Linked DNA regions of Homo sapiens. The protein of the gene in region 1 purifies or fractionates together with the protein of each later gene. This does not show direct contact. Each region holds a gene or a part of one and is shown in the gene's direction. Other genes may lie near its edges.

The links.
Region 2: the proteins of CD160 (region 1) and TGFBR3 purify together in Homo sapiens (affinity purification with mass spectrometry; one large-scale study listed by BioGRID and IntAct). This does not show direct contact.
Region 3: the proteins of CD160 (region 1) and CELSR3 purify together in Homo sapiens (affinity purification with mass spectrometry; one large-scale study listed by BioGRID and IntAct). This does not show direct contact.
Region 4: the proteins of CD160 (region 1) and FAT3 purify together in Homo sapiens (affinity purification with mass spectrometry; one large-scale study listed by BioGRID and IntAct). This does not show direct contact.
Region 5: the proteins of CD160 (region 1) and ITGA3 purify together in Homo sapiens (affinity purification with mass spectrometry; one large-scale study listed by BioGRID and IntAct). This does not show direct contact.
Region 6: the proteins of CD160 (region 1) and TTC17 purify together in Homo sapiens (affinity purification with mass spectrometry; one large-scale study listed by BioGRID and IntAct). This does not show direct contact.
Region 7: the proteins of CD160 (region 1) and ARL15 purify together in Homo sapiens (affinity purification with mass spectrometry; one large-scale study listed by BioGRID and IntAct). This does not show direct contact.

Annotation. Positions count from the first base shown.
Region 1 is NC_000001.11:145,718,062-145,722,298, forward strand, and holds the start of CD160 (CD160 antigen precursor), read left to right. Parts: upstream 1-1,437; 5' UTR 1,438-1,498; intron 1,499-4,237.
Region 2 is NC_000001.11:91,876,152-91,879,651, reverse strand, and holds part of TGFBR3 (transforming growth factor beta receptor type 3 isoform a precursor), read left to right. Parts: intron 1-3,500. UniProt on the Homo sapiens protein: Cell surface receptor that regulates diverse cellular processes including cell proliferation, differentiation, migration, and apoptosis.
Region 3 is NC_000003.12:48,652,887-48,656,386, reverse strand, and holds part of CELSR3 (cadherin EGF LAG seven-pass G-type receptor 3 precursor), read left to right. Parts: intron 1-21; coding exon 22-247; intron 248-535; coding exon 536-651; intron 652-992; coding exon 993-1,081; intron 1,082-1,185; coding exon 1,186-1,343; intron 1,344-1,934; coding exon 1,935-2,098; intron 2,099-2,383; coding exon 2,384-2,509; intron 2,510-2,598; coding exon 2,599-2,768; intron 2,769-3,199; coding exon 3,200-3,385; intron 3,386-3,500. UniProt on the Homo sapiens protein: Receptor that may have an important role in cell/cell signaling during nervous system formation.
Region 4 is NC_000011.10:92,231,318-92,234,817, forward strand, and holds part of FAT3 (protocadherin Fat 3 isoform 1 precursor), read left to right. Parts: intron 1-3,500.
Region 5 is NC_000017.11:50,069,610-50,073,109, forward strand, and holds part of ITGA3 (integrin alpha-3 preproprotein), read left to right. Parts: intron 1-1,234; coding exon 1,235-1,321; intron 1,322-1,701; coding exon 1,702-1,909; intron 1,910-2,376; coding exon 2,377-2,573; intron 2,574-3,500.
Region 6 is NC_000011.10:43,357,761-43,361,719, forward strand, and holds the start of TTC17 (tetratricopeptide repeat protein 17 isoform 1 precursor), read left to right. Parts: upstream 1-1,159; 5' UTR 1,160-1,194; coding exon 1,195-1,353; intron 1,354-3,959. UniProt on the Homo sapiens protein: Plays a role in primary ciliogenesis by modulating actin polymerization.
Region 7 is NC_000005.10:54,304,074-54,307,573, reverse strand, and holds part of ARL15 (ADP-ribosylation factor-like protein 15), read left to right. Parts: intron 1-3,500.

The DNA of each region.
Region 1 (4,237 bases):
CCCAGCCTTGCAGGACTTAGAGCCCAATGCTTCTAATTCTCAGACTAATGTTCCTGCCATCTAAGGGCACAACCCTAGAATTTAGGAACAATTGTAATCTCCCAAGCCATCACTGACCAAGGAAGAACAGAACAGAATAGAAATGGATGGGAAGCTGGGAGTGGTGGTTCAGGCCTGTAATCCCAGCACTTTGGGAGGCCAAGGCCAGAGGATTGTTTGAGCCCAGGAGTTCAAGAGCAGGCGGGGCAGCATAGGGAGACCTCATCCATACAAATCATTTTTAAAATTATCAACCGAGCGTGGTGGCTCACGCCTGTAATCCCAGCACTTTGGGAGGCCAAGGCAGGCAGATCACTTGAGGTCAGGAGTTTGAGACCAGCCTGGCCAACATGATGAAACTGTCTCTACTAAAAATACAAGAATTAGTCCAGCATGGTGGCAGGCTCTCGTAATCCCAGCTACTCAGAAGGTTGAGGCAGGAGCATCACTTGAGCCCAGGAGGCAGAGGTTACAGTGAGCTGAGATCACGCCACTGTACTCCAGCCTGTGTGACACAGCGAAACTCCATCTCTAAATAAATAAATAAATAAATAAATAAATAAATAAATAAATAATAAATAAATAAAAAGTTATCCAGGTGTGGTGGCGTACACCTGTGGTCCTAGCTGCTTGAGGGGCTGAGGTGGGAAGATCACTCGACCCCAGGAGGTCAAGGTTGCAGTGAGCCATGATTGCCCCACTGCACTCCAGCCTTGGTGACAGAGCAAGACCCTGTCTCAAAAAAAAAAAAAAAAAAAGGAAAGAAAGAAAAAAGAAAAAGAAAAAAAATGGGTGGGTGGGAAGATAAGGTCAGTCATTCATCCTCCCCCCACCACATCAGGACCATTTTGGTGCCCCCACTCGTTGCCTCCCCTGCTCACCACCACCCTCACCCAAGCCTTCTTGACAGCTCCCTGACCTTCTTCCCTTTCAGCCTGGAGCAGCTGTGTTCTCTGTCCTACTTCTAACCAAAACCTACTCTCAGGAGAAGACTTGGTACCTTTCTTTATACTTGAGAGGACATTCTGTCCTTTTATCTTCTAGTTATTCTATCATCAGTCCTTTCCTTATTATGAATTAGCAAATACAAAATCTTTGTTCCCCAGGGTAAAGAAAAGAATTTTAAGAAGTGGTTTTTCTTAGCCCCCTCAGCACCCTAGTCTATTTCTAACACCAAAAAGACAAAACAAGGGAGAGGAAAGGAGAAGGAGATGGAGGACCAGTTGCAGGAGAGAAAGGAGAAAAAAATCCACAGTGGGGGTGGCGGAAGATCTATGACTTCTAACAACCCATTCTGTGGTTTTCAAAGAGCGAATATAATAACAGCTATGAAAGTGTGAGCAATGACGAAACTGGAGAGATAGGGTTTTAACAAGATGCAAGGACAATCTGAGGACTGAGAGCCATTTCAACGTGAGCCCCCAGTCTGAGAACAAGAAAGAAGAACTTCTGTCTCGAGGTAAAAAGGCCTGCTGGGGACCTGGGGTCCAGGTGAAGGGATGGGATGGTTGACAGAACTGCTCAGGTGAGGACAGGCTTCTCATGAGGTCCCTGAGAAACTTGCCTTTTGGAGGGAAATGTCCTCTGCCCTCTGGAGCCTGGGGAGAAGGTTATTTCTGCCCGCCAGACCAGCATGCTCGCTTTTCTTCCATGGGCATTCAGGAATCCTGGCCCCATTCTGACATTCCTCAAATGGAGGAATTCCTCAAATTACCAGAGGAAAGTTACCAAAGTTTAGATCTGCTGGAGCTCTTCAAGGATTGGCCTGAGACAAGCCGGGAGGTGCCACGGGGCTTGGAGCTGGCCCTGTGAGGCACCTCCGGGGGAAGTTCATGTCCTAGGTGGTTCACGTCATGGACCTCTTGGAGGTCCGTGAATAGATTTATTCATGGGATTTGTGAATTGGGGGGAAAAATACATCTTTATTTTCACTAATCTTTAATTGAAAGTCAGCACTTGCTTCAGTTATGAATGTAGACAATGAACCACAATAGAATTTGCCATCAATAGAAAACACAAATATTTTCAAATCTCATTACAGTTTTTATAGATTTCTCCAAATGTCCTTAACGCTCAGCACTACTACAGAATTACAACAGTTATTAGGCTGATGTCAAATCTAAAGAAGCATGTGTACTGCTCTACCACACATTCTTCTAATGTTTTGACAACTGTCTTGTCATAATTTGTTCCCTTTATTATCCCATGTATCTTATTAATTTTTAAATGTTGTTCTGAGAAGGGACTCCATATGCCTTCCCAGACCACCAAAGAGGTCCATGGCGCCTTTATGTCAGGCACCTGCTTTGGTGTGTTGAGCAGGAAGCCTGAGATCTCAGACAAGAGCTTCAAGGGCCCCCCAGCCCAAACCTCTGTCTACTAACAAGTCTGGTTCTACTTTAAGGCAGTTGGGGTTGTGGAGATTGAAAAAGAAGCCCCTTCACAGCTGCAAATGAGATCTTTCTGGGCATCTTTTTCAGTGTCGTGGGAGATCTGTATACAGAGGTATTTGTGGAGCTCAGAGCTGACCTTCCAGCTCCTCTGAGAGGTTAGATCCGGGCTCCGGTGGCAGAGGAAATGGAGACTCTTCCTTGCCCTCTTGTCCCCACCCTCCCCAGAAAACCTCTGGCAAAGCTTTATGTGTCATCTAACCGTCACCACATTCCTATGAGGTAGTTTTAAACACAAGAGGAATGTGAGGCTGAGTGAGGTCCAGCAATGTGCTGGTCACACAAAGCTTGGATTTGAACCCAGGAGTCCACAAGACTCCAGGACCGCCTCCGAAGGTGCGGGAGGGAAGAGTTTCCCGCCGTCTGTGAGCTGTCGCCTGAGAGAGGCACCGAGCCCTGGGGCCACCAGCGCAGCTCAGGAGCCCCGGGGACCATCAAAGATGAGGATGCCAACTCCACGGGCACCCTCCCCCCTGCCCGCGCTGGGGCTCACAACGTTTTAAGAGGGGAGACCCGCCCCTGGCGTGTAGTGGGCCCGGAAAATTCCCAGACTTCTCACGACCACCCGCTCTCCCCTCTGTTGAGGGCCAGGTGCCGCTCTAGTACATGCTGCGTCCCCAGGACCCACCAGGCCCAACTTTGCACCCCCTCATCTCCCCTCCTAGTTTAGACTTTCCCTGGCTAGCCCCCATGCTCGCTGGATGGCCCATGGCTGGAGTGACGCGGGCCAACGCGGGGCAGGTAGGGGGTCACTCGGCTTTGGCTGAAAGGCAGCGCCCTCTAGCGGCCAGAGTGCGAAATCAGCGCCGCCGGCTCCGCGCTGCCCCGCCTGCATCACAACAGGGTGCTCCCCTCCCGGGCACCAAGGTCACTTCCCAGAGCATCCTTGCCCAGTGACCTCGCTGCCCCCCAGCGCTGGTGAGGGGCCCACAACAGACTTACATGCTCTTCTTCAACTCGGCCCTAGGCACCGCGAAGTCTGGCCACTCCAGCGGAGTGACCAGCTGCATCAGCCCCTCCCGCCTGTCCTCTCTCTCCTTGGAAGCGGTCCCTACCCTGCGCCCCTCCCATCCCGCTGCACCAGTCCCTTAGGAAACACGCCTAGAGAAGGGACACGACCTTGTCAACATTCCACAGCTACCTAGTGCGGAGCCAGGACTGGAAGCCAGATCTCCTCAGCCCATTCCCCACCTTAATTCACCCACCGTATTCTTTAGTCACCAGCTCCCGAGAGCCCACAAACAACTATGAAGGCCTAACTTCATTGCCATCTTGCAGCCTTTCCACATCCCTCATCCAGAATTTCTCCTGTGCTGCCCCTTGACACTTTATGACCTTATTACTTAGTACAGTCGTTCTTGTGTTAACAGCTGTTCGTGAATGGATGAGCGGCTGTGAGGAGAGGGACAAAGGGGACTCCAAGAGAAAGACTCTCATAACTTGGGTTAGAGTCCTGCTCCCCAACTTAGGAGCTGTGATTTTAAGCAAGTCACAAGTCCCCTCCAAGCCTCTATATGCTTCGTACAAATAATAAATTTTAGAAAATAATAATGGCTTAGTGTTTTATAAGGACTAAACACAGTCTTGCAGGTAGATGTGCCTGGAACACTGTCCATTGATTCCAATATAAGAAAGCATAAAACTAATCATAGCTATCATTTATTGAGCCCTTACTCTCTGCCAGGCACTGTGCTAAGTAATTTACATAGGTGACCTCATTTGACCCTCACAACCCAAGGAAGAGAATA
Region 2 (3,500 bases), about 54 Mb from region 1:
GTTTTTGAAACAACATTGATATAAATTCTGCATGAGGCTACTGTCATTTGGAACTTATTCTTCATTTTTTATTCTTCAGTTTTTCAGGCCAAAGATGAAGACTTAATAGGCTGACAACTGCTTATGAGGGATAGAGACCATATTTAAAATGGAAGGTCTAGAACAAGAGCCCCAGAACCATGCCTTCAGGCCATCCTAATGTGCCCTGCTGAAGATAATTTTTTGGTGTCGGGGGGCAGGGCAGGGAGCCTAATGTCTGGTTTTTGTGGTGGTGGTTCTTTTATGTTGAAATCTTCTTCCATCCTGGGAAGAGGATTCAGTTATATGTAGAGCCTAGCAAAGTTGATTTTTAGAATTAGATTTTAATGGTTATTTTTTTTTTTGAGACAGAGTCTTGCTCTGTTGCTTAGGCTGGAGTGCAGTGGTGTGATCTTGGCTCACTGCAACCTCTGCCTCCTGGGTTCAAGCGATTATTGTGCCTCAGCCTCCCAAGTAACTGGGATTACAGGCGGGGGCCACCACATCTGGCTAATTTTTGTATTTTTAGTAGAGACAGGGTTTTGCCATGTTGTCCAGGCTGGTCTCGAACTTCTGGCCTCAAGTGATCTTTCCCCCTCAGCCTCCCAAAGTGCAGGGATTACAGGCGTGAGCCACCATGCCCGCAAGCCCACTTTAATGTTAAACTGTTGCCAAGATAATTTAGAATTAAGTCTGAAATGTTAGCTCTATCTTTACTTAAAAAATGGTTATAAAGAAGCGTATACTTTCTGGACATTGGACTCCTAGTGAAGGGGGCCTTTGGAGTTGGGTGTTGTTTGCAGGAGGACGAAACACCTGCTTTTCTGTCCTTCCAGGCACATAATTCATTTCTCTGGTATATGCCGAAGGTCAGGTTTTTTGTGTAAAATTGCTGATGGATCATTTGTAAAAACACATTTAAGTTGATTAGTCCTTGAAAAATGATCTTTAGAAAATGATCTTTACAGATACTAGTCCTTGAGCTTTCCTGTGGATCAGATTGCCTTGGGCGAAGGTCTGCAGTTTCACAAGCATGACTCACTACCTTTTATAGGTGAGAACATCAAATGGGCCAGGTGGAGGGTCTAGTAGAACTCTGGATTTCTTTTTAAATTTGTATCATACTATTTTGCTAATGGAAACTTGATGAATACTTAATTCCATCTGGCAAGTGAAAAGGGTCCCTTTTGGGAGTATTCGTTTTGTTAGCATTTTTAGTGATTTATTGTTTTGACAGTGTGATATTGGTCCTTGGATGCAAAAATACTCTGGAGACTATTTGGAAATTTCATTTTATAATTAACTAACTGTGTGATAATTGCTGGAGCAGAATGTGTGTTTTTTTTTTTTTTCTTTTCATTCTGGAAGGTTATTTGAGGTGAAAAACTTAGATTCTAATCACAAAGGCTTGTGTTCATGTGGTACCCTGAGTACTTTTGTAAGATACTCACTGTGTTGCTGTGAGTTATCTCTTTTATGGTTTTTTCTTTAAAACAAAACTCTTCTGAGTCTCCATAAAGAATAAGTATCTCATTTTGTTATATTAGATTTTGTGCAGTTGGCTGGCAAATTAAATTTAACTTTGAGGGAAAGCACCATTGACTCATTACATACATTTTGCATCATTGCAGCGTAAGGTCTTCCCTATGTGTGTGGGAGAAGTTTCTGATCTAAATGGGCATGTTTCCTATTGCTGGTCTATCTTTTAGCCAAAGCATTTCTGAATAGACATTCCTATTCATTTTCTTATTTTCGAGACTTTAGAGAGATTGCTACTTGTTATGTATTCGTGATAAATCATCTGAATCCTGAAAAAAATACTTATGCCAACAGCCCATTTTGTAAAGACACTTGTCTTTGAGCTTTTAAGCTGTCATACTCATTATTCGTTACAATAGCTGTACAGCCATTGGATGTATCATGTTTTTGACACAGGAGCTAGGGGAAGGATGACCTACTTGTTGCATTTCACATTTTTCCATATTTATATCTTTTTTCAATTTGTGGCATCTTTATTTCATTGTTAGAGTGGTTGTTCTCTAAGACGTTCCAGGTTTTAATTTCATTCACTGTGTGGGCTAAATAAGGAGCTTTCCTGTAGAACCAATTCTACTAAATTCCTGAAAATGTCAGTTAAAAATTAGCCAGGCATGGTGGTGTGTGCCTGTAGTCCCAGCTTCTCAGGAGGCTGAGGCAGGAGGATGGCTTGAGCCAGGAGGTCGAGGCTGCAGTGAGTCATGATCATACCACTGCACTCCAGCCTGGGTGACAGAGTGAGACCTTGTCCCTACCCCCACCACACACACAAAAAAAGAAAATATGAAGAAAAAAGAAAATGCTTCCAAAAAGTATCCCATCTAGATACCATGCTGGTTAGGGCTTTTGGTCATGTTTGAATGGGACATAGCTGAACACAGAGCAGGATTTCAATGGGTAGGCTAGGAAAAGGAGAGGAGTGTCTAATTTGTTGGGAGAAAATCCACTTTTGCATAATAATAGGGGATTTACGTGTTTTCTTTGGAGTTAATATGTATTTCAAGTAGGTAGATAGGTAAGAGGTTTGCAAAAAAATTTTGCTAAGGTTGAGGTTCTGTAGTTGGCAACTCTTATAACCCTGAAGATCCTGTTCTCTAAAGCCAGGAAAAAGCAGTCTGTTTCCAATTATGTATCACAAAAAATAGTGAAATTAAGCCAAGAAAAATGATCATTTGGGAGTTGGGTTGCTTTTTTTTTTGCAGAGGGTAAAGGAGAAAGGACTGTAGACACACATTTTAAAGAATCTGCTAGTTTTTCTGTTGGCTTTCAGATTTTTCTCAAATGCTCTGTATTGGAAATTAAGAATAATTTTAGGATTAAAGGCCTTTTCCTCCTTCGGCTTCTTTTTGTTTCTCAGAGAGCAAATAGAAGAGCATTTAGGCAGTTTTTGCTGACATGAAAGGGTTTGGGTCCAGTGTTCCGGGACCCAGCTTGTGTTTTTGGTAAAGCCTTTTCCTGCCTGAATGGTCCCAGGTTATGGGCTCACAGCATCATACCTGGTAGTGGTGCTATGGTTTTTGTTATATGAATTTTTTTACCATGCTTTGAACTGAAATGTAGTCCCTGCTGCCTAGCATTATTCTGCTGGAGGAGAAAACTAGGGATGTTAGTGTGGGAAAGGTATGGAGGTGCGAAGCCTAGCATTTGGATGATGTGTGGGTGAATATATTGTCCTCAGCACTTGTCAGAAGCAACTAGCCTTTCGGGATGCCTACTGCTAGTTTCAGGATTAGTGGTCCTGTGAGACCTAGGTGTTAACTAAGAAATCTCCTTTCCACTGCCAGAAGATCAGCCCCGGCAGGTCTTAGTTCCTGTTTCTCACACCTTACACCTCCACAGAGTGTTGAATAAGACTTTCCTGATGCTGCATAATCTTTGATAACTCTTAGTCTTGTCACTGAGGCTAATGTGTTTTAGCTCTTGGTGCTTTTCTTCTCACCTCCCAT
Region 3 (3,500 bases), on another chromosome or scaffold:
TGACCGCGGCTTGGCCCCCAGGAGAGGACTGCGAGCTGGACACCGAGGCCGGCCGCTGCGTGCCGGGCGTCTGCCGCAACGGGGGCACCTGCACCGACGCGCCCAACGGCGGCTTTCGCTGCCAGTGCCCGGCAGGCGGCGCCTTCGAGGGCCCGCGCTGCGAGGTGGCTGCGCGCTCCTTCCCGCCCAGTTCGTTCGTCATGTTTCGCGGCCTGCGGCAGCGATTCCACCTTACGCTGTCCCTCTCGTAGGTGCCCGCCCCGTGTCTGAGCGCCTCCCCGCCGCCCCCACCTACCCGCCCTGACTCAGATTCCTGACTGCCCCGTCCTGGCATCCCCATGAGACACCGCCCCTCCCCTGACGCCCCGCCCGGGGTCTCCTGACCTCGCTGCACCCGCGTCCCCCCGGTCGGTCCCGCCGTCCCTCGTCGCTTCCTCTCTCGCCCCAGCCCCTTCTCCTCGCAGGGATGGTGGGTGTGAAGTGGTACCCTGCTCCTGACGCTCCCACCCCCGCAACCCCCTCCCACCCCGCCCAGGTTCGCGACAGTGCAGCAGAGCGGGCTGCTCTTCTACAACGGGCGCCTGAACGAGAAGCACGACTTCCTGGCCCTGGAACTCGTGGCTGGCCAAGTGCGGCTCACATATTCCACGGGTGGGTGCCCCGGATGTGACGGCGAAAGGGTGCGTGTGTGCTGGAGGACGCAGGGCCCAAGTCCCCTCAGGTTTGCTTCACTGTGCACCTGAGCACACACTCCACGCCATGCAAGCCCTGAAGACCTAGCTCCTTGGCCATTCCCTGTGGGAAGGTCCCTCCCTCCAAGAAGTCTGTTTCTCCTGTCTGTTCAAAGGCACTCTGAGCCAGCCATTGTGGTCACCAGTGGGGGGACTGATCTGATGCATCCAGGGTGGCCCTGGGAATGGTTGTGCTTATATGACGGGTGGGATGGGGCGACTCCGCTGCTCCTGATGATTCCACATGCATCTCCCCTCCAGGTGAATCCAACACCGTGGTCAGCCCCACAGTTCCAGGGGGCTTGAGTGACGGGCAATGGCATACAGTGCATCTGAGATACTACAACAAGGTGGGGGCCATCCCTGGCATCGGGTATGAGGGGAGTTGGGATGCTGACTTCTGCTCCTCAGGGGTTACTGGGGGCACTGTTGACTGGTGTGCCTGCGTCTTCAGCCCCGGACAGATGCCCTAGGGGGTGCACAGGGCCCCTCCAAGGACAAGGTGGCTGTGCTAAGCGTGGATGATTGTGATGTGGCCGTGGCTCTGCAGTTTGGTGCTGAGATTGGCAACTACTCATGCGCGGCTGCTGGTGTGCAAACAAGCTCCAAGAAGTGAGGCCCCTGCCCCCTAGTCCCCTTGTCCCCTGCCTACCAAAGCCCACTCCAACCCTTCACATCCCATTCCTCATCCCATCCTGCCAAACTCTCCCATCTTTCCCCCAAACCACCAAGATTCCCCTCTCCTCTCAAAGACCCTGAAAGCCTACTCACCCTAGCCCCCAATCCTGTATTCCACCCCATACTCCCTCCTCCCACACACAGTCCCCAGGCAGTCCTCCAAAGCCTCCACCTCCCCACCCCAGTCTCACTAATGTCCCACATCCCCTCCGAGTCCCTTCATCTCATGTCCAGTCCCCCAGAGTCTTCACGTCTCCATCCCCTCCCCAGCCAGCCAGATGCCTCATTCTTTCATCATAGCTCTCAACCCCCATTCACCTACCTTTCCCCAGACCATCGGCCCATCACGGGTGCCCCTTTGCACCCCAACTGAAGTAAGATCCTAACTCCTTCCACAGCTCGGCCTTATTTTCCTCCCTCAATCACCCTACCCTCTGGGTCCTACCCCCCTGCTTCCTGTGGCCCCCCAGGAGCAACTCTACTCTGGCCCCAGTCCCACCAATGACCCAGACCCCTGATCCCCAGGTCCCTGGACCTGACGGGCCCTCTTCTTCTGGGAGGTGTCCCCAACCTCCCCGAGAACTTCCCCGTATCCCATAAGGACTTCATCGGCTGTATGCGGGACCTGCACATTGATGGCCGCCGAGTGGACATGGCGGCTTTTGTCGCAAATAATGGCACCATGGCAGGTAGGCCTGAAGCTTCCACCAGCCTAGCCCATGGCCCTGTCCCCATCATAGGGAGGAAGTGGAGGACTCCATACCTGACTTCAAGCCAGTCTCCTTTGGTGGCAAGCACCATGCTACAGCCCAGATTTTAGGGCCTGACTCTTACCAACCCCACTCATCGAAAGAAAATGGGAAATGGGGCTGAGATCTTGGTCTCTTTCAGCCCCTCTGGACACTAAAGTCCTGTCCAGCACTTGTGCCCCCCAACCCTTGTTCTCATGTCCGCCATGTGCTTTCCTCTCCCAGGCTGCCAAGCCAAGCTACACTTTTGTGACTCAGGCCCCTGCAAGAACAGTGGCTTCTGCTCGGAGCGCTGGGGCAGCTTCAGCTGCGACTGCCCTGTGGGCTTCGGCGGCAAAGACTGTCAGCTTAGTAAGTGGGCAGCATGGGGCAGAGGGGCCTGCAGGGTCAGATCTGTTCCTGGGGCAGGGGCTGTAACCCTGTTTCTCTTATCCACTCAGCTATGGCCCATCCCCACCATTTCCGTGGCAACGGCACACTGAGCTGGAACTTTGGAAGTGACATGGCTGTGTCTGTGCCATGGTACCTGGGGCTGGCATTTCGGACACGGGCAACGCAGGGGGTCCTGATGCAAGTGCAGGCTGGGCCACACAGCACGCTCCTTTGCCAGGTGTGTCCACCCTGCTCACCCCTATACCCTCAGTTCTCAGTCTCTTAGGCCGCCACTGACATTCTTGTGGGTTCAGGTTGGTCACACAGCATACTTTTCTGCCAGGTGTCCCAACCACACTTGACCCTGCTCTGGACCCTAGCCCTTGATTCTCTTTCCATCATTATATCCTCTGCAGGTGCAGGGCTCCAGCATAGCTCTCTCTTATGCAAGCTGCACCAACCCACCCACAACACCTGGTCCTATCCTCTGCCCCCTGACCCCATATCAGCAACATGATGTCCCCTGGCACAGTGCCCTTTGTGCCAGGTATAACCTTGACCCCACTGTTCTGACCTCTGATATTCCTGACCTCTGAGCCCTCTGATCTCACCTCCAAGTCCCAGCCCACATGGGGCTCTAACCCCAGGGCTATGCATCTCTGCCCACAGCTAGATCGGGGGTTACTGTCTGTGACAGTGACCAGGGGCTCGGGCCGTGCTTCCCATCTCCTTCTGGACCAGGTGACTGTCAGTGATGGCCGGTGGCACGATCTGCGGCTGGAGTTGCAGGAGGAACCAGGTGGCCGGCGGGGCCACCATGTCCTTATGGTCTCACTGGACTTTAGCCTCTTCCAGGTCTGGCCTCTGACCCCGGGGTAGTCTGTTCTCAGCCTTCCAACCAGATCCGCCTTATTTGACCCCACCTCTAGTCCAGCTCCTCTCAGTTCCCTCCACTGCACTGAGTCTGATG
Region 4 (3,500 bases), on another chromosome or scaffold:
AAAAAATTTGTAAAAAATGGCTTACAAAGTAACATTAGCTTCCAGAATGTGAGTGAAAAGGCAGACTTTTACCTTGGACGTTCTCTATGACTTGATCCTACTTGTACTTTTCAGAGCAGTTGCAAATAATATTTCAGTTAATTCTTTCTTTCTTTTCTTTTTTGAGATGTTGGAGATAAGCCCAGCTGTTGAATGAGGCACAGTTATGAAAGGTTAAGTGGAAGTTTAATTGTAACTTCAGGACTTCAACTAAATTAAATTCCAAACAATCTGAAAAAAATTGTAGCCTTTTCAGTACCATGGAAGGTCAAAAAGTGAGCACTCTGGAGCAGCTATTGATGTTTTATATTTTGAGATAAGCCCCAAATTATTAATGCTACTAAATATCATTGAACATTATTTGATAATTGTAAACATCTAAGAGTATGCCAGATGACACAGATTAAATTTAGTGACAAATGTGCTTAATGACAGTATAAATATCAGGGTTTTTTTTTTTTGTCAGATAAATTCTATGTAAGTCTGTGTGTGTTTTCTTTCAAAGCAAAATGAGGCTATATCTTGGTAGCAGGATCAGCTTGGTCTTTTTTGAAACCTAGAGCATTTATCACACATGACATTTTGTTGATTTTTTAAGTCTATGTGATCAATATTTTGGACCTCTGAAATCTATTTTTGATTGTGGTTTGAAATTCTCTGTTGGTTCTAAGTGGTGGCTTAATGATAGCAGTTGCTGTTGTGATTGGGTGAGCAGTGTGTTATGTGATTCATGTGGTACCGTCCCATGCTAGGGTGGATTTTGCAGCTAGGGTTTTCTCAGATTGGCCTGGCTATGGAGAACTTCACTGCAAAGAAATGTACACATGAAAGTGGGCCAAATGCAGATGACTTTAACATCGCCCATGTTATGGATAGAATGGGGTGTGAATCTTTCCCACACTTTCCACTTAAAAAAAAAACCTTTGCTAATAACAGTTTCAATCAAATGAATAAGAATTCAGAAGTGTGTGGTAATCTCTCTTGAGAATTTGGTACCTATCTGATAGGACTGTAAAGGCATTTCAGAATGTCAATTAAATGGAAAAATATGCCTGGAATTGAATATAATTAAGAAATGTTGAAGTCTGGTGTCTACATATTCAGACACTGTATAAGATGGTTTAATTAGTGAACAAGGATTTGGATTTATTGACAGAAGGTCTCTTTCTCATGGCATGTTTCACTCATTAAAAGCTCATAATGTCTTGGATCTTTTTAGCTGTTGGAACTTGACCATTTGTCATTTTGTGCTTCTTGACTTCAGTGATGTCGTTTTTTTTTTTTTTTTTTTTTTTTTTGTTTAACTGTGCAACTGATTAGGATGATGTTGCTTCTCTCATTGATGATTATTTCCATGGAGTGGACGCATGGTGTCTTGTAAACATTATGAAGCATCACCAAAGCACTAGGCAAAACTCAGTACCTCTGAAAAACAACAATTGGGAGGTAGAATTATTATTGTGGAATTTTTGGCCTAGCAACTTAGAAGTAATTAGAGTAACTTCCTCTTTATAACTACTAGCTTTATATTATATTTACCTGATGGCAGAATTTACATTTAAATTCACATTTCTCTACATCTCTCTCAGTTTTTCAGTTAATGGTTTATTAGTTTAAATCCTTTTTATTCCTGACTGTTGGGCTGAAACAGTTTCTAATCATACAGAAGACTGAAATTCTTTTTTAATATTCTTGTTGTTGGATATATTTCTTTTTGAACTGCATTTGATGATTATAAGTGCCTGAAAGAACTGCAGTTAGTAAAGAGAGAACTTGGGAATGTTGACAAGTGAGGTAGGGAGAAACATGGTTCAGTTAGTCCTTGAGGATTTTTCATTACCTGTTTATAACTTAGATTTTGGCTGTCTCCTATACTGGTACTAATGTGAACAGCTACTTTATAAGATTTTTTAATTCCTCATCTTCATAGGTATGTTCTCTAAGTCAGAGCTATTTAAAGTAATCTAGCGTTCCATCTTTCCTGTAGACATAGCAGATCATTCACAGTCTGGTTGAACTAAGTACACATTACATCGTTGGTCGTTTTGGTGGCATGTGCTGGGTTCTTCAGGCCCGTGTCATTGTTGGCAAAGTATACTAAGAGTGCTACTATTATCTTGGACTAATTTTTTCATGGAGCATATTAAATAAATGTGGTGTCTGACCCTTCAAAAGTTAGCTTCCTCACCTGAGTGATGTTCAGCTAAATAGGTATAAGTCGTAATGTATGTGTGATCCTAAGTCAGTAAGATGGTGAACTGAAGTGACATCATCTGCTTGGAAGTCCCTGGATTAACAATGGGACTTATATTTATATTCAGAAGACAACTGCTACAATGAGGAAATTGGGCAATCTAGGCAATTGAACAATTGAATGGGAAATGTAAGACAAAACATATTATATTGCCAGATCAATTCCCTAGATCTTGTTGAATTATACGATAATTAGATAATCTTCTTTTATTTGGAAGTGTACATTTTGTAAGTGTAATAACTTGCAATAATCACTTTATTCCTAAGTTGTATTCAGCAGTGCACATGTTGTGTTCAGTTTACATTCTGCATATTTTTGTTAAATAGGTAGTATTAATAACATATTTTACCTCATATCCAAAGAGAAAGAGGGAGATGCAGGTATTTTGAGATTTATCACTTTCATACAGCTCATCAGTGGTTACTATAATAATCCAAGTGAATAAACCTAGATTGTTCTTTATACAATAGATATGTTTTTAAACATTGAGTGTAAATGACATTTTTCAAAACAAATCACATCTTAAATGCTTTCAACTAGGGAAAATACACTCTTTATTTAAACAGATGTGGCAAATTATTTTTATAAAGTAAATAACAATTTGTCTCTCTTACATTTATCTGTTTTTTAAGTTTAGATTTTGTATATTAAATTTCTCAAAGAGATGCAAGAGTGTATACATATTGGAAATACGTTTTTGTTCAAATATATAATAAAATGAAAGAGTTTGACCTTCTCCCTCAGTACTGCTTTGACGAGAAGTGGCATCAGAGGGGAAAATAAAGGGAGAAGATGGAACTAGAATGAGAAAAAACAGAAATGTCCACCTAGTTTATGGAGATGTTGAGGAAATGTTAAAGTTTAAGAATTTCTGGGCCAGGAGTGGTGGCTCACGCCTGTAATCCCAGCACTTTGGGAGGCTGAGGCAGGCAGATCACCTGAGGTCAGCAGTTCGAGACCTGCCTGGCCAACATATAGTGAAACTCCGTCTCTACTAAAAAATACAAAAATTGCCAGGCACGGTGGCTCATGCCTGTAATCCCAGCATTTTGGGAGGCCGAGACCAGTGGATCACAAGGTCAGGAGTTCAAGATCAGCCTGACCAACATGGTGAAACCGTATCTCTACTAAAAATATAAAAATTAGCCAGGTGTGGTGGTGGGTGCCTGTAATCCCAGCTACTCAGGAGACTGAGACAGGAGAATCT
Region 5 (3,500 bases), on another chromosome or scaffold:
GAGCTGCGATTGTGCCACTGTCCTCCAGCCTGAGCAGCAGAGCAAGACCTTATCTCAAAAAACTAAATAAATATCGCTACTTTCTCTCTTTCTCTTATCAAAAGTCATGGGCACTTTTTCATGTTGATATATATAGGACCATCATTTTAGAGGATGAAGGGTATTTTCTTGTAAAAGACCATGCTTGTAAAAGACCACACTACACATGGTCTCACAGGGGGTGTCTGACAGCTTATACTCCCTCCATCTCTTTGCCTCCCTCCATCACACAGGTTGTAGCAATAGGGACCCCTTTTCCCTTACTGAACCTTTATTGTTGTAGAATCAGCAGGCAGAGGAGCCTTGAATCTCCTCTTGACCAACATGTAGCCCCAGGCATAGTCACAGCTCTGGGCTCACCGAAGGCTGAGGCCTCTGCCCCCTCTTCTGGTCCTGCCTCCCACCCCCTGGTCATGTAGCACCTTGGCAAAGTCACAGATACTCTCCAGCAGCAGCCCTGGGTGCAGGGTCCAGCTAGGCAGCCCGAGTTTGGGGTCAGGACCAGAAAGAGATAATGGTGTGGAGTCTGACCTCAGTGTCTAGAGAGTGGGGAAAGCCATCTAGCATCTAATATCCAGGAGCCTGAGTGATTAAGTTCTAGCCATGGCTCTACAACCAGCTCCCCATGGGACTATGAGCAAGTCAACTTCCCTCCTGAGCCTCACTTATCTGCAAAATGGGGGTCATAATTTAACCTCAAATAATTGTTATAATAGGCCAGGCACAGTGGCTGACACCTGTAATCCCAGCACTTTGGGAGGCCAAGGCAGATGGATCACTTGAGGCCAGGAGTTTGAGACCAGCCTGGCCAACATGGTGAAACCTTGTCTCTACTGAAAATACAAAAATTAGCCGGGCATGGTGGCGCATGCCTGTAATCCCAGCTACTCGGGAGGCTGAGGCAGGAGAATCGCTTGAACCCAGGAAGCGGAGGTTGCAGTGAGGCAAGATCACACCATTGCACTCCAGCCTGGGCAACAAGAGCAAGACTGTCTCAAAAAAAAAAAAAAAAAAAAAAAAGGAAAAAAGAATTGTTAAAGAGGATGTGTTTTATAAATGGCAAAATGCTCACCAATAAAAGGGGTTATTACTATCCTTGTTGGGTGGGGGTGGGGGTGGGCTGGACATGGTAGAGGAAACCAGAAACCGGTGGTGACTTATACTCCCTACTCTCCCTCCCTCAATCCCTGTGAAGGAAACAGCTACATGATTCAGCGCAAGGAGTGGGACTTATCTGAGTATAGTTACAAGGACCCAGAGGACCAAGGAAACCTCTATATTGGTGAGTACAGTAGTGGTAGCCCATCAAGTGGTAGAGGGGAAGGGGGCTTAGTCCCTGGTGGAAAGGTGAGGCCAGAGTGCAGTTGTGACTAATGGCATTTAGTTAAACTAGCACACACGGATTGGCCGGCACCTGTATGCCAGGCCCTGTTCCAAGCTCCCAAGATGCAAAGTTCTTGACTTCAGGATGCTCACAGTCCAGTGTCCAGGCAGAACTGGGCCATGGCTGCTGGCCATCTGGAGTCTACTTTCTTGCCCTACTTGGAATAGTGGGATAGAACATCATGGTGGGGGGCAAGAGAGGGAATAGGGAGATGGGTCCAGAGTAGAAAGAGACGAAGTTGACTGGGACCTTGGTTGAACATCTTCCCTCTATCCCAGGGTACACGATGCAGGTAGGCAGCTTCATCCTGCACCCCAAAAACATCACCATTGTGACAGGTGCCCCACGGCACCGACATATGGGCGCGGTGTTCTTGCTGAGCCAGGAGGCAGGCGGAGACCTGCGGAGGAGGCAGGTGCTGGAGGGCTCGCAGGTGGGCGCCTATTTTGGCAGCGCCATTGCCCTGGCAGACCTGAACAATGATGGGTGAGAATCTAGGGACATCCTCTGGGGCCAGGGAGAGCGATGGGCGGGGGAAGGCTTACCTAAGCCAGGTGAGGGGAGTGGAGGATTTGCAGTTGTGCGGCTGTCTGCATGTTGTTTGCAGAGGTTTGCAGTCAGGCTTTATGGGAGTCTGAGCACCTGCACATGGCATTTGTGGGACCCCTGCGTTTGCTTGTTTCTGCTTGGGATTTGTATGCTCCAGTGGATGTGGATTGTTTGGGTTTGATTTGTGCCTGCATGGCGTCTCCATGACATATGTCTTCTATTTGGTGGGTCATATTGGCATCTCCATGTCCTTCCCATGCACATGTCCTTCCCACCCATGACCTGTGGCCGGAAGAGCCATTTGCAGAGCCCTGTGCCCTGGCACAGTCACACCTGTCAAACAAGAACTATGCTGCATATTGGAGGCTGACCTCACACTCCCATTTCCCTCCTCTCCTGTGTAGGTGGCAGGACCTCCTGGTGGGCGCCCCCTACTACTTCGAGAGGAAAGAGGAAGTAGGGGGTGCCATCTATGTCTTCATGAACCAGGCGGGAACCTCCTTCCCTGCTCACCCCTCACTCCTTCTTCATGGCCCCAGTGGCTCTGCCTTTGGTTTATCTGTGGCCAGCATTGGTGACATCAACCAGGATGGATTTCAGGGTATGAGCCAGCACTCCTCCCCCAGCACCCCTCCTCCAGCACCCCTCCTCCCAGCACCCCTACTGACTGAGCACCAGCTGCACATCAGGCTTGACAGGGCCCACAGATGAGACAGGATGGGGCCGGACCTGGGGAGCTCGCAGCAGTACTAGAGAGAGGATGTGCAGATGTGCAGAGGAAGCACAGAGGCAAGCTCAGTGGGCCTCCTGGAGGAGCTTGCATGCCACTGTGCAGCCAAGGCTGGGCTGAGAGTGCACAGTAGAGAACTGATGGGGCACAACATGGGTGTGGAAACTGGCCTGGTGTGCCCAAATCTAGCGGGTGTAGAGTGTTCACATCAGAGAGGAGGCTGGAGGGGGAGTGGGGTGGGGTGGGGTGAGGATGGATGCTTTGAAAGCCAGGCAGAGTATCTTAGGGATTTATATTTGGGTAATGGTGATGGTGGGGTCATGGGGCATCCAGAGAAAGTTTTAGGGCAGGGATGTGATATAATAACTTTGTACCCTGAAGGATGATTCTGGAAGGGGTATGGAATGAGTGATTGCAGGGATGGAGCAAGGCCAGGGGAGTTAAGATCAAGAATGTAATATCTCAGGTGGGAGATGATAAGGAATGGGACAAGGTGGGAGCCCTGGATATAGGGGTCCTCATAAGTGTTCTGCAGGACTTGGGGACCAATCGGACCTGGGGTATCAGGGACAGGGGCAGACCCAGGGCTGGAGTCAGTGCCATGGGGGCACCTGGCTTATCTGAAAGTCACTTCTCTGATAATCTCAGTTTCCCAGGACATAGCTGAGAACCAAGAGGAAGGCAAAGGAGCCTCTGAAGACCCAAAATAGGTGCCAGAAAGTTCAGTCACCAGAGGCCAAGTGTGCACTGTGGAAATCATTTGGTTTCGGCCTGGGACCTGCTTCTGCTCCCTTTACA
Region 6 (3,959 bases), on another chromosome or scaffold:
TCCTGGAATGAAGAAAAAAAAAACACCAATGCTGTGGTTGTTTCTACATTTCTATAGCGTGGTGTTTAAACACTTAGCAACTGCTCTCCTGCATACACTTGTGTAGAGAAGTGGTTAAACAATATTCTCATCCTTCTTTTCCCAAGGAGAAAACCAAAAGCATACCAACCTTAAATAACACACACAGAGGGCAATCTTGAAAGACCTAAAATGACATATCTAGCAAGAAGCTGGCAGCCAAGCTTGACGCCTGCCTGCCTGCCTGTTGGTTCACTAGAAGAAAGTGGTTCTCAAACTTTAATATGTATACCAGTCACCTGAGGCTATTGTTAAAATGTAGTCTGATTCAGCAGGTTGCGGGGGAGAGGGAGAAGAGCCGAGAATGTGCAGGTCTAAAAAGCTCCCAGGTGATGCCAATGTTTCTGGTCTCCAGACCTAGACCTCTAGCTTAGACCTGTGCTGACCAGTACGTTAGCCACATGCGGGTATTAAGCCCCTGAAATATGACTAGATAAGCTGTCAGTGTAACATGCCGATTTCCAAGACTTAGTTAAAAAAAAAAAAACTAAACTATCTCAATGATTTGTACAGACCACATTGAATTAATATTTTGTGTACTTTGAGTTAAATAAAATGTACTAGTAGGGTTACTTCCCTCTATATTTTACATTCCACACGTGGCTCGCATTATAGTGCTACTGGACAGCGGTGCCCTAAACTAACAACCGTCTCCATTCTGAAGCTTCCACTATTGTGAGACTTTAAGAATAAAAGCAACACCTCTCTTCCCATAGGTGGTTCGAAAGCACACCTTTTGTTCCCCAACTATCTACCAGAAATAAAACGAAAAAACAAAGATTTAAAAAACAATAAAATTGAGTCCTTTCACTTCTGCTTAAGCGCCACCTAAGCCACTGCTTTTGTCTCCCTCCGGTTCCCACGCTCCGAGATCGTATCACCCACAGAAAAACAATAACTAAAAAGCGGTCTCCATCCCTGAAGCCAAGCTGGGAGAGTAGCCGAAGGTCGCGCTTCCTGGCCGCCAAAACCGAGGTGGAGGAAACTTGGTAGTCAGCGAGCTACGCCCTCTCGGCTCCTCCTCCTGCTCCTCCTCCAGGGCCGACCTCTTCAAGATGGCGGGCGCCGGAGACTAGCTTCCGCTTCCGGTGTGAGCGGCCCGGCCGGGGGGGCAAGATGGCGGCGGCAGTAGGGGTTCGTGGCCGGTACGAGCTGCCGCCTTGCTCCGGCCCAGGCTGGCTCCTCAGCCTTTCCGCCTTGCTGAGTGTGGCGGCACGAGGGGCCTTCGCCACCACGCACTGGGTCGTCACGGAGGACGGGAAAATCCAGCAGCAGGTAGCGGCCGGGGCGTCCCTCTTCTCCCGTGCCCGCCCTCGCCCCGGGGGGATTACCCTGCTTGGCCCCTGGCTGTTGGGCTCCGCGCGGCCCCGCCCCCAGCCTACCCTCACAGGGAGGTGGCACCGCGACCTCGGACTCCCTGCATTCGGACCAGGCAGGCACTTCCCGCTCCCCACTTGTCTCCTGGTCCTCGTTTGGCCCCCTAGAAGTTCTCACCCTTCCACCTCGCGGGCCGCGCGCCGCGTGGGGAAGAGTCGCCCAGCTGCGGGAGACGGGCCCTACGGACCTTTTTTTAGCTCGGGGTTTAGAAATCACAGATTTCAGGATTCCTGCCTTTGGTGCCTCTCGGGTTCACGCGTCACCGGCCCTCCCCGAGGAAATAGAAAGCAGGTGGCAGCTCCAGGGTGTGCGCGAGTCCCATGGTATGACAGCTTCTGGACCCCTAGCCTGTGGACCATTCGTGCTGCTCCCCTAGTCTCGTCTACCACATGGTGGATTTCGTTTCTGGTTGTGTTGGTTTCAGCTTGTACCGTTACTCAGGTCAGCAGTGGCTCATTAGAAACAACATAGAAACACTCCCCTTCAGAAGGAATGCTTGAAGATGCCGCTGGTGGCGTTGCCTGCATCTTTTCAGCTGTTACTGCCCTCGTTTCCCAGTGCACTTTGCTTTGTTTCTTTACCTAGTTCTTGTGACCCAGCCTCGCATGGAGGATATGCGATTTCCTGGATTCTTGTATGCCTGAACTAATTCCTCAGAGGCGAGACTGCTTTTCTTATATAACTTTATGATTGCCTGCGTTTTGTAAATGCTGCTGATGCCTAACGAGTGCGTGTGTGTGTTCCGCTACAGAATATTGGTAAACTTACTGACTTCGAACACTTGAGGACAATCTTGAAGTGTCTAGCAAACATTTAGAAAGTGAATTGTGTGCCCCATGCAATTTAGCCCACTGATCTAAAACGTTTTAACTAGTGTGGTGGGAAATTACTGGTCCTTTGGATTGTGTGTAATGAATCATGATAGGAACACATTCCAACGTTTAAGGTGAGGTTTAGATTTAGATTTGCCGTGTAATGTAATTGCAAATTCTATCTCAAGTAAGTTAAGTATAACTAAAAATCCGCCTAGGTATTCATGAGTGGTTTTCAGCATATCTAAGAAAAGACCGTGTTCCTATTGGGTAACGTTTTCTATATGACATACATAAAGAACAGTTTCCTTTTCATTGCCATACTATCTGAGACTTTAAATATATGTGTATGTGTTTCAGAAACCCAAGAAAACACTGTAAGACCATATGTGAGTGCTGGTTGCTTCCACCCTTCTTTTGTTTCTTGATAGTGGTTTTCCCTGAGGTCTCTATGAAGACGTGGAATTAAGTCACTCCTGCTGCATTTTGGGGAGCCTTTCTCCTGTTGGCTCTTCTGCAATATTGTTTTTGGCCACAGCTATTTATACTCTATGACATTGACTTCTCCTTCCCATTTTGGTGTCCTACCACTCAGCTGAAAAAGTAGCCCATCTAAAAAGTGAAAGCTGGTAGAAATGTTTTATGTATATACTTAACATTGCAATGGGAAAGTAGAGTCTGATTTTTTTTTTTTTTTTAACAAATTCCTTCTTTTTGCACTTTGGATACATATGTATTAATGGGGGAAGGCAGGGGTTACTGGAAACTTGCCTCAGAGAAGCAGGGAAGAGCTGAAGAATCTTTTGGATCTCTGCCAAGTCACTGCTGAGCTAAGTAATTAGGCTTAAAGTTTAAAAAGCAAGATTTCTCTATTACATGACTTTTTAAGTGATCCTTTTCATTGAATTTTCCAATACTTTGCTATACATAACATTTACAATGTTATGTTCAGGCAGCCACAAGATTTTATGCCAGAAGAAATAAGGTTGGTGTCTGCAGTGTAACAATAAGAGGCCAGGGGAGGAAAGTTGGATTTAATCTGAAGAAAAGGCACCACATATAAATAAAGTAAAAGAATTGGGTGCTGTGGTGAGCTGCCGAGTTCCACTCTGATAGCTGATTGTGCATGACCCATGCTTCCCTTCCTGGCCATAATTTGTATGCAGGTAGAATCCAAACTATCAATTTAGATCGTGATTAATTATAATATTTGTATATACTGTACTTAAGGACTTGAAAGATCACATTAGTGTATGAAATCCATATATATTGCAGATTTGTACATTCAGAAACATAATTAAAAGCTTAGTATATACAGATGCTCCTCAGCTTATGAAGGGGTTATGTGCTGATAAACTCATTGTAAGTCGAAAATACTGTAAGTCAAAAATGCATTTAATGTACCTACCAAACATTGTAGCTTAGCCTAACCTACCTTAAACGTGCTCACAATACTTACATTAGCCAAATTTGGGCAAAATCATCTAACAGCATCTTTTACAATAAAGTATCAAAATACCTCATGTAATTCATGAATACTTCACTGAAAGTGAAAAACAGAATGGTTATATGGGCACTCAGTACAGTTGCTACCAAATGCATGTCACTTTTGCAGCATTGTAAAGTCAAGAAATTATAAGTTGAACCATCGAAAGGTGGGGACCATCTGTATACTTTGTCCTGACATACCAA
Region 7 (3,500 bases), on another chromosome or scaffold:
AAACAAATGTTCTCAGAAGTGACAGTCAAGGTGAGGGACAGGGATAGTACTTTAATATTTAAGACAGGGTTTTATTGATTTCAGTCGAGAGAAAGAATAGAAATTTGCTAATCCTAATCAATTAGATGTATCACCTGGTGCGGTGCCTGACTTGGTTTCTGGCATGTATTAATAGTTAGGGCCCGATATTTTATTTGTTGAATCAGATGAATATGAAATGGAAAGGAAAATTCTGCTTTTTTTCACCAGTTTTTAAACTGAGACAAGATAAAATCTGTTTGGATTAGGTGTTTTGTTCAGGGGAATGCAGAATGTATCCTTTACTCTTAACTTGAAGATGATCAAGATATAATCCTTTTAGCCAGGGTGGCAATTTAAACATAAAAATCTCTGTTTTCCAGTTGATGAGTGAATCTTCCTAGAAGGGCACACAACTTTTCCCCTTTCCATGATGGGGTTTAAAGGCCATGTTTACATCTGCCAAGTCTCTGGGTAAACATTTAGCTGCTGTCCCAACAGGCAGTACCAGCATCTTACTCTTTCTTCTCATAGGTAGAACTAGTAACACAATGTGCAGAGCTTTTTGGATAAGGTAGGAGAAAATAGTCAGGTTAAAATGAAAGAGAAAAACACATTTCTCGAGTTTTCCTGGGAGGTTGGACAAGATCAACTTCTAGATTCCTTTCAGTTCAAAATTTTCTGTCTTGACTCATGTGATGATTGATCTGGAATTAACCTTTTTTCCCTCTGCGCCATCAAAACAACAGTGGTAGAATTGGTTGTACTCTGTGTAATACCTATGATGATTAAATGAGATAGTGGAGGGAAAGCCATTTGTAAACAGTACGTTGCTTTTCAAATATAAAATGTTAACGTATTGTGTGGCTGGGCGAGGTGGCTCACGCCCGTAATCCCAGGACTTTGGGAGGGCAAGACAGGCGGATCACTTGAGGTCAGGAGTTTGAGACCAGCCTGGCTGACATGGAGAAACCCCATCTCCACTTAAAATAGAAAAATTAGCTGGGTGTCGTGGCGCATGCCTGTAATCTCAGCTACTTGGGAGGCTGAGGCAGGAGAATCGCTTGAACCCAGGAGGCAGAGGTTGCAGTGAGATCGCACAACTGCACTCCAGCCTGGGCGACAGAGTGAGACTCCGTCTCAAGACAAAAAAAAAAAAAAAAAGTTAACGTATTGTGATTATGTTGCTGATGTTACTTTTATACCTCCTGTAGAATGACTGTTACTGCTTAGTGGTATTGAAATACCTTTTAAACTAGTCTCAATTTATGGAAATACTGGGAGTTGTAATCAACAAGCAGGAAGTCACAAGACTCTTTTAAGAATCTTTTAAAAGCTACGAAAATAAAACCCATTTGAATAATTTATCTATTCAACAAATATTTATGGAGCCCTTACTTTCTGCATGGCCCTGAAAGTCATGCGGGATGAACCCTCAGCTGTAATATCCTCCTTGACTGCAGGACTGGCAGTCGTGTGGCTCTAGAGGAACCTGTGGCAGGACAGGTTAAGTAAGGCACATAGGGGAGGGGGTAGCTTCTGATGTGCTTCTTTGCTTTCTAGTACATTTCTCTCATTTTGTGTGTTTTATTGTGAACTAAAATATAAACTTAGACTTGAAAATGTGACAAGTAAAAATGGTTGATTAGTCTTGGATGCTAATTGTCAATTAATATTCATTGCATTTGTTTATAGTAGCCTCCACCCTCCCATCCACGGTTTTACTTTTCAAGGTTTCAGTTAACCATGGTCCACCGAGGTCTCAAAATAAGTGAGTAAAGTACAATAAGATATTTTAAGAGAGAGAGAGACCACATTCATATAACTTTTATTACTGTATATTGTTATCATTGTTCACTTTTATTATTAGTTATTATTAATCACTTACTATGCCTAATTTACACATTAAACTTTATCATAGGTGTGTGTGTATAGGAAAAAATATAGTGTGCTCTGTGCTATGTTAGTTAGTTCTATGATAGCTCAGTACTATCTGTGGTTTTAGGTATCCACTGGGACTTGGAATATATCCCCCATGGATGAGGGGAAACTACTGTACCGTGTTGGGGATTTTTTATTTATTTATTTTTTTTTTGTGACAGAGTTTTGCTCTTGTCATGCAGGCTGGAGTGCAATGGGGTGATTCTCCTGTCTCAGCCTCCTAAGTAGCTGGGATTACAGGTGCCCACCACCATGCCCAGCTAATTTTTGTATGTTTAGTAGAGACGGGGTTTCACCATGTTGGCCAGGCTGGTCTCAAACTCCTGACCTCAGGTGATCCACCTGCCTCGACCTCCCAAAGTGCTGGGATTACAGGAGTGAGCCACCGTGCCCTGCCAGTGTTTGGGATTTAATAAGATTAGATTTGATAGGTTAGTTTAATAAGATTTCTTTGTATAGACTGGTGGACTTGACCTATTTAGTTTCTTGGTTATAGGCTGTATCTGCCATCATAAAAATGTATGTCTCAGTGGGGAAGATGTGGTGAGAGAATTGGGTTGATCATCACAAATCTGTCACCATTTGCAGGATAAAAACCAGCTAACTAACCAACAATAGAAACCCATGATGTGCTACAAAGGGTAGAGCCCACAGGCACTATGAAATTGTAAAGGATCCTACTTGAAAAGAGGAGTGAAGGTACATTTGTGATTTCATATTATGTTCAGTTATCTGTGAACTGAACTTCTTTATTGATAAAAAAAAAAGTACATTGTTTCGTTGTTTTTAACCCTGAATATCTATGAACATTGTAAGTTGTATTTATTGTGACTAACTTTAAAGTGATAATGTAGGTCACTTTTTAGTCTAAATGTCGAGTGGATTAGGCAGTCATATTAAATATTCCTTTCTTAATAATTTATAAGATAAAAATTATCTGAGCACAATAAACAGATCTACCATATATGGAGTTCATATAGCAAAAATGTTTTGAGCAAATCCGTACCATTAGGTAGGAACTTTTCTACAAAGGTGTTAAGTCTGGTTCCCAAACTTCTGTGGCTCCAGTCTAACAGTATGAGCCCTAGGAGAGGACACATAGGGACCTTGATTCATGCCCTCCAGGGGCTTGCATTCTGAAAGATGCCAAAGCCACATGCTTGTTGGCATGTGGGCAGTGCTCAGGTCGGGGGTGAGAGGAGATAAGTATATGAGTTATAATCAGGAGGGCAAAATCAGTTAACATTTATTGAACACTTACTCTGTGCCAGTGTTCTAAGTGCTTTGCATGTGTAATAGCATTAAACTGAGGCTCAGGGAGGTTGTGTAATTTCCTCAAGTTCACACAGCTAGCAAGTAGTTGAACTGCGCTTGTGGCCCCAGGGCCCTCCCTCTTCATTGCCTTCCACCTACAAGTAGTTCCCTTGTGCTAGGCAGAGGCTCAGGCAGCTTGGTGTTAAGGCAGTTGGGATGCACTCAAAATTTTTAGTATATTGCTTCTTAAGTAAACAGGTACAGAAAAGTGGTCCTTGACCACTACT